Homo sapiens: one gene and its partner. The protein of the gene in region 2 interacts with the protein of the main gene of each other region in a pairwise test. Each region holds a gene or a part of one and is shown on either strand. Other genes may lie near its edges.

Region 1 (2,946 bases), on a different chromosome or scaffold from region 2:
CTACTCCATGTATCCTTCCACCTGAGGCTGGGGTGGGCGGGGAACGCCCAGGGCAGAGCTGGGGAGCCACTTCACAGTGAGCTGTTTGCCTCCGCTCCCCACCACCGCAGCCAGGCTGGGACACAGGGTGGGCTGTGCACGGGTTGGGCAGCCCAGGCCCCAGCAGCCAGGCCCCTCGCCAGGACCATGTGGCGATCAGCGGCAGACCCGCCAGTCTAAGTCCTGGTGAGTGGTGGGCAGGGGGTGTCACCAGAGGGCCAGGGCCAGCACTGAGGCCTCCCTGTTGGACTGCTGGGATCCCCTCTGCCCGCTCCTGTCAGTCATCCCCCTTGACCGGCCCCTCTACCTCCTCTGCCCCATCTCAGCCCTGCCGCCCAGCCGGACCTTGCGACAAGGAGCACTGGGCAGGGTGGTGGGAGGGAGGGCGTGGGCAGCCCCGAGTGCCAGACCTGTTGGAACCTCCCGTGGCTGCCTCCTGGCTCTGTGACCTCAGGCAGTGGCTGCCCCCGACCTTTTTTGAGACAGGGTCTCGCTCTGTCCCCCAGGCTGCAGTGCAGTGGTGCAGCTGTGACTCATGGCAGCCTCCACCTGGGCTCAGGCCACCCTCTTACCTCAGCCTCTGGAGTAGCTGGGACCACAGGCACACACCACTGCACCTGGCTTTTAAATTTTTTGTAGAGATGAGGGTCTCACTATGTTGCCCAGGCTGGTCTCAAACTCCTGGGCTCCAGTGATCCTCCCGCCTCAGCCTCCCAAAATGCTGGGATTCCAGGCATGAGCCACCGTGCTCGGGCCCCTCTCTGTGTTGTCTTCAGTAAAGGGAGTTCCCTGTGGCCCCTCAGGCTGAGCTGGGCTGTTCCTTAACCACATGGCTTCAGTGTGGCGGGCGTGTTTGTGTGCCTGCTGGAGTACCCCCGGGGGAAGAGGAAGAAGGGCTCCACCATGGAGCGCTGGTGAGTCTCCTCCTGCTCTGGGGTCTCTCCGGGGGCTGCGGGGCCCAGGCAGGGCTCACAGGGTTGGGTGGAGCTTGGTTTCTCACTTGGAGGCTCCGGAACCAACCCTTTGGTGCTTGTGGGTAAACCAAGGCCGGTGCCTGCCCGGTGTGTTTTGTGGGAGGAAAGAGGCCTGGGTGCCCTGGGGTGGTCAGCAGGGCAGCAAAGGAGTCCCGAGTGGGAGAGGCCCAGCCGCGCCGTCTCGCCTTCCTCCCTCCCCCAGGGGACAGAAGTACATGACCGCCGTGGTGAAGCTGTTCGGGCCCTTTACCAGGAATTACTATGTTCGGGCCGTCCTGCATCTCCTGTGAGTCCCCGTCCCGCACCCCCTCTAGGGCTCAGGAGGGCTTGGAGCCGACCCTCCCCACTGTCCCACCGGCCGGGCTGCCTGGACAGGAGCCACCCCCACTTACCTCAGTGTTTTTCCAAACAAAAATTCGGGTCCCTGGCTCTGGCAGGGCCTGTGTCTGCTGTCTAGTGTGCAGGATTTGTAAGGATCCACTCCAAATCCGAGGAGCTCCGATCCGTCGCCAGGGTCTGGGGTCAGCATGCACTGCTGGGGGGTCTTGCCTGGGCTTCCTGGTAGGGTGGAGGGTTCCGTGCTGTGTGTCTGCTGGTTACTGCCGGCTGAGGCCAGGACACCCACACGTGGCTGCTTCCTCCGAGCAAGTGCACCAGAGCCGCTAGTGTCCACATCAAGGCTGAGAACACCCAGGACCGAAACAAGCCCCGGTCCGCGCACGTCCCCTGGGTCTGCAGTCTGCCTTGTCCTGAGACTTTGTGGCCTTGGCCCCCAGACCTGGGGCTCCGTTCCCCTTTCTGAGTGCCCTTCTGTGTCCCTGCCTCTCACCCGCTGTCCCCCAGGCTCTCGGTGCCCGCCGGCTTCCTGCTGGCCACCATCCTTGGGACCGCCTGCCTGGCCATTGCGAGCGGCATCTACCTACTGGTGAGTGGCGCCCTCTGAGGTCGGCCCCGGCCACCCCCATCCCCAGCCCCTGCCCTGACACCCTCGGACACGCATGGCCCTTGAAGCCGGCTCTGTAGGCTGAGCCAAGGCTGGGAGCAAGTGTGAGCCTGGGCGTGTGCTCACAGCACGGCGGGGACGCAGCGGTTGCTGCTGCCATTTTTGGCGTGTCTAGTGTGTCGGGTCATTTCCTTGCATTTCCTCATTAACCCGCACCACAGCCCTGGGAGGGGTACTGGGGTCCCCACTTTACAGACAAAGATGCGGAGGCTCAGGGAGGTGCTGTGACTGGCCTGGGGTCACGCAGCCGGCCGAAGACCGTGCCTGCGCTTGGGTCCCATTATCAGGCTTTTCTCACCTAAACCCTATTCGCGCTGATTCATGGGCGGTGCCAGGACGCAGACATTTTCTTAAACTGCCGACACCTGCGTTTGGTTTATGACTGCTGCACCCTGTTAGAAGGCTGCCCATCCCATGGGATACAGTGATCTCTCTGAGAGGCCAGGGATGGGTGGGAGGACAGGGCGCAGCCTGGCCAGGCCTTGGGTGAAATGCCCTCTGCCTGCCCTGGGCTCCGGAACAGACGGCTGCAGGCCACCTCTCACTGCGGGGGTCTCTGGGTGGACAGAGCCCTCAGACTTTGCTTATTTAAATCCTTTTGTCCATAGAGCCAAGTCCCTCCTGCCCGCAGAGGCAACTGCCCTCCCCTTGCTGTGCGTCTTCTAGTGTGTGTGCGTGGGAAAGGTGCAGCACTTTCTGTGTACGCCTTCCGCGTATGGAAGTGGAGTTCTGTTTCAAGCCTCACTGACCTGCCACCGGCAGAACTCTCCTTTAGAACCCCTTCCTGTTGCCAAGTGCTCATCTGGGCTGTTGCTTTGTTTTCCGGGGGCCACCCGCATCCCCCCCGTCTCCCTGCTGCCACGCACAGCTAGTGGCTCCTGGAGACCTCGGGAGGAATTCCTTGTGCTAAACCCAGAGAGGAATTGCTGG
Region 2 (3,814 bases):
ATTCTCCCACCCCAGCCTCCCAAGTAGCTGGGACTACAGGTGTGTGCCACCATGCCCAGCTAATTTTTGTATTTTTTGTAGAAACAAGGTTTCCCCATGTTGCCCAGGCTGGTCTTGAACTCCTGGGCACAGGGGATCTGCCTGCCTGGGCCTCCCAAAGTGCTGGGATTACAGATGGGAGCCACCACACTCAGCCTTTTTTTTTTTTTTTTTTTTTTAATAATTCGTTACTCTGAACTGTTTGACCTGTTCCGTGTTTGGCATGAGAAATTAAATGAAAGTTTTGTTTCCTTAACTCACCGGTCAGGTTCTTGTTTAAAGTTGCTAAATTCTAGGATCATCATCCGTAGACTTGACACAGAAAATACTGTGGTCACTTGTTGTGATGAGACTTGAGATCTTTTTCTTTTAAAGCAACAAGCCCCTTTGAGATTCACATTGACTATAAAGACCATCTTTTTGCAGTGTTTTAAATTTTCCTGCTGGCCTAATAAATGAAGTGGAATAAAATGACCTGAAAGTCACGGCGTGTGTGGGAGACAGGGCCCAGCTGCAGGCTGAGCACCTCGCTGTTCTTGATAGGGCATGGAGCCGGGTTTGTGTGTCTGAAATTAGAAATTAGTAGTGGCCAGGCGCGGTGGCTCACGCCTGTAATCCCAGCCCTTTGGGAGGCCGAGGCAGGCGGATCACGAGGTCAGGAGAACGAGACCATCCTGGCTAACACGGTGAAACCCCGTCTCTACTAAAAATACAAAAATTAGCCGGGCGTGGTGGCTGGCACCTGTAGTCCCAGCTACTCAGGAGGCTGAGGCAGGAGAATGGCGTGAACCCGGGAGGCAGAGCTTGCAGTGAGCCGAGATCACGCCACTGCACTCCAGCCTGGACGAAAGAGTGAGACTCCATCTCAAAAAAAAAAGAAAGAAATTAGTAGTAAACTTGTGAAGACATCATAATGTATGACCTTCTTTTTTCTTTAAACTTCTGTGAATGTTTTGAATTTTGACTTTTTTTTTTGAGATGGCGTCTTGTTCTGTCACCCAGGCTGGTGTGCAGTGGTGCGATTTCAGCTCACTGCCACCTCTGCCTCCCCGGTTCAAGTGATTCTCCTGCCTCAGCCTCCCGAGTAGCTGGGATTATAGGCACATGCCACCATGCCCGGATAATTTTTATATATATATAAACCTGACCTCAAGTGATCCACCCGCCTTGGCCTCTCAAAGTGCTGGGATTATGGCATGAGCCACCACGCCTGGCCTTGACGTTTCTTTTTATAATATTGTGTCTGTCTATTTTTCCCCCAAGAGATAAACAAATTCTGGTGCCAGTTTTTTCTTGCAAAGTCTTCGCACTCACTCTCCTCTCTGCCTGGAAGGCTTTTCCCCCTGGCTTCCCCTGGCTCCTGGCCCCGTCAGGTCTTCCTTAGGTCTCAGCTGACCTCACTTCCCCTAGGAATGGCACTGCCCTGCTACCCTCTCCCAAGACTAGGTTAGGGGCTCCTGTCTCATCTTCCTCTACCTCTTTTAATTGTCTTACTTCTGGTTGGAGTCTTGGCAAAACCTCCAGCCACTCCTTCAGCCAAGGGAGGTTTTCTATGTAGGAAAAAGGATAAAAAGGAAAAAAAAAAACATAGTGCTCTAGGCTTTAAGACACCAGTATGACCCTAGGACATTAATACCTGATAAAAAGCAGCCAATATTAAAAGGGCTTTTCACCACCACCAGGGTTCTTTGGCGATGTCGACAAAAGCTGAGAGAGCCTTTTAGCTACAGAGCGCATTGAAGATCAAGCTGCCTTCAGTGTCTCTGGACGTAGCAAGAAGGCACGCTTTAATAAATCTCTGCACAGCATAATAGCCCGGGCTTGTTATACCCCAGGCCAAGGACTTCCCGAGTCCTATATGCCTAAGAGCTGTTGTTTGGCAAAAGAAAAAGAGTCGGGACCATAGGCAGCTGGATCACACAGGGTACATTTATCAAGTAGAGAAATCTACTGGATATTTACAAGATCAGGCTTGTTTTTTAAAGTTCTCTGGATAAGGATAAAGGGATTTTATCTTAGACCAGGGTGGGCACGTAGAAGTAGTGGTGTTTAGTTGTTAGCGTCCAGCAGACAGGATGGCCTGACTCCAGGGACCCCTGGCTGGGGGCTTATGTGATCCATACACAGATGGGGACTGACCTAGTCTCACATGGGGGCCCAGTGCAGTCCCTTAAAGACAGATCTAGTCAAACTTGAGTCTGTTTGTTCTTGTTCTTGTTCTATTTTTATTTTTTATTTTTTGAGACAGGGTCTTGCTCTGCCACCCAGGCTGGAGGGCAGTGGTGCAATCTCAGCTCACTGCAACCTCCAACTCCTGGGTTCAAGTAATTTTCCCACCTCAGCCTCCCGAGTAGCTGGGACCACAGGTGTGCGCCACCACGCCCAGCTGATTTTTGTATTTTTTGTAGAGACGGGGTTTTGCCACATTGCCCAGGCTGGTCTCGAACTCCTGGCTTCAAACAATCTGCCTGCCTCAGCCTCCCAACATGCTGGGATTACTAACATGAGCCACCACACCCGGTCTTGCTCTTGATTTATTTCTGATGTTTCTGTGTCAGGCTCTTCTGGAGCTCTGACCCAGAGCAGGTGGAACCTGATCAAGTCTGTTCGTTCGCTGGCTCAGGTCAGCCTGGATTGTGACCCCCACGTATTAGCGGCACCTTCCACCCGCCCCGCCGCCTCGCCAGCCGACAGTCACCCCGACCTTGTGTTGTTGTTTTTACCTCCCTCACTAGAATGTAAGCTTCCTGAGCACAGGGATTCCTCTTTTAAAAAAACTTAATTTTTTTAGTTGAGATATAAGTCACATACCTTAAAATCCACCCTTTAAAAGTGTACAATTCAGTGGTTTTTAGTATATTCACGAGGTGCTTGTGCAACAGTCACTGCTTAGCCTCCCGAGTAGCTGGGATTACAGGCGTGCATCGCCACACCCACCTAATTTTTGTATTTTTGGTAGAGGCGGGGTTTCCCCTTGTTGGCCAGCTTGGTCTCGAACTCCTGACCTAAAGTGATCTACCCGCCTTGGCCTCCCAAAGTGCTAGGATTACAGTCGTGAGTCACAGAGCCCAGCCTAATTCTGTACTATTTTTATCACCTCCAAAAGAAATCCCTCATTCCTTTCTCCCCCAGGTTCCTGATGACCACTAATCTTTCTGTGTGTATGTATGTGCCTATTTTGGACATCTTATATAGATAGAATCATACAATATGTGGTCTTCTATGTCTGGCTTCTTTTTTCTTTTCTTTCGCTTTCTTTTCTTTCTTTTCTAGAGACAGGGTCTTGCTCTGTCGCTCAGGCTGGAGTGCAGTGGCACAGTCATGACTCATTGAAACCATGACCTCCTGGGCTCAGGTGATCTTCCCACCTCAGCCTCCTCAGTAACTGGGACTACAGCCATGTGCCACCACACCTGGCTAATTTTTAAAATTTCTTGTAGAGATAAGATCTCACTATGTTGCCCAGCTGGTTTGGAACTCCTGGCCTCCAGCAATCCTCCCACCTTGGCCTCCCAAAGTGCTGGGATTACTGAAGTGAGGCACCGCGCCTGCCTGCTTCTTTTCACTCAGCATAATGTTTTCAAGGTTCAGTACGTTGTAACACATACCTGGAATTCATTCCTTTCTAGGGCTGGATAATATCTCATTGTATGGATTGACCACACTTTGTTTATCTCTTCATCAGTTGATGGGCATTTGTGTTGTTTCCACTCTTTGGCTATTATGAATAATGCTGCTCTGAACATTCTGTACAAGTTTTTGTGTGAGCATCTAT

Evidence for each region.
Region 1: the proteins of CPT1A (region 2) and CYBA interact in a two-hybrid assay, tested with the Homo sapiens proteins (one large-scale study listed by BioGRID and IntAct).

What each region holds. Positions count from the first base shown.
Region 1 is NC_000016.10:88,645,108-88,648,053, reverse strand, and holds part of CYBA (cytochrome b-245 light chain), read left to right. Parts: coding exon 1-9; intron 10-878; coding exon 879-953; intron 954-1,215; coding exon 1,216-1,299; intron 1,300-1,856; coding exon 1,857-1,938; intron 1,939-2,624; coding exon of another isoform or gene 2,625-2,888; exon of another isoform or gene 2,889-2,946. UniProt on the Homo sapiens protein: Subunit of NADPH oxidase complexes that is required for the NADPH oxidase activity that generates, in various cell types, superoxide from molecular oxygen utilizing NADPH as an electron donor.
Region 2 is NC_000011.10:68,775,896-68,779,709, reverse strand, and holds part of CPT1A (carnitine O-palmitoyltransferase 1, liver isoform), read left to right. Parts: intron 1-3,814. UniProt on the Homo sapiens protein: Catalyzes the transfer of the acyl group of long-chain fatty acid-CoA conjugates onto carnitine, an essential step for the mitochondrial uptake of long-chain fatty acids and their subsequent beta-oxidation in the mitochondrion.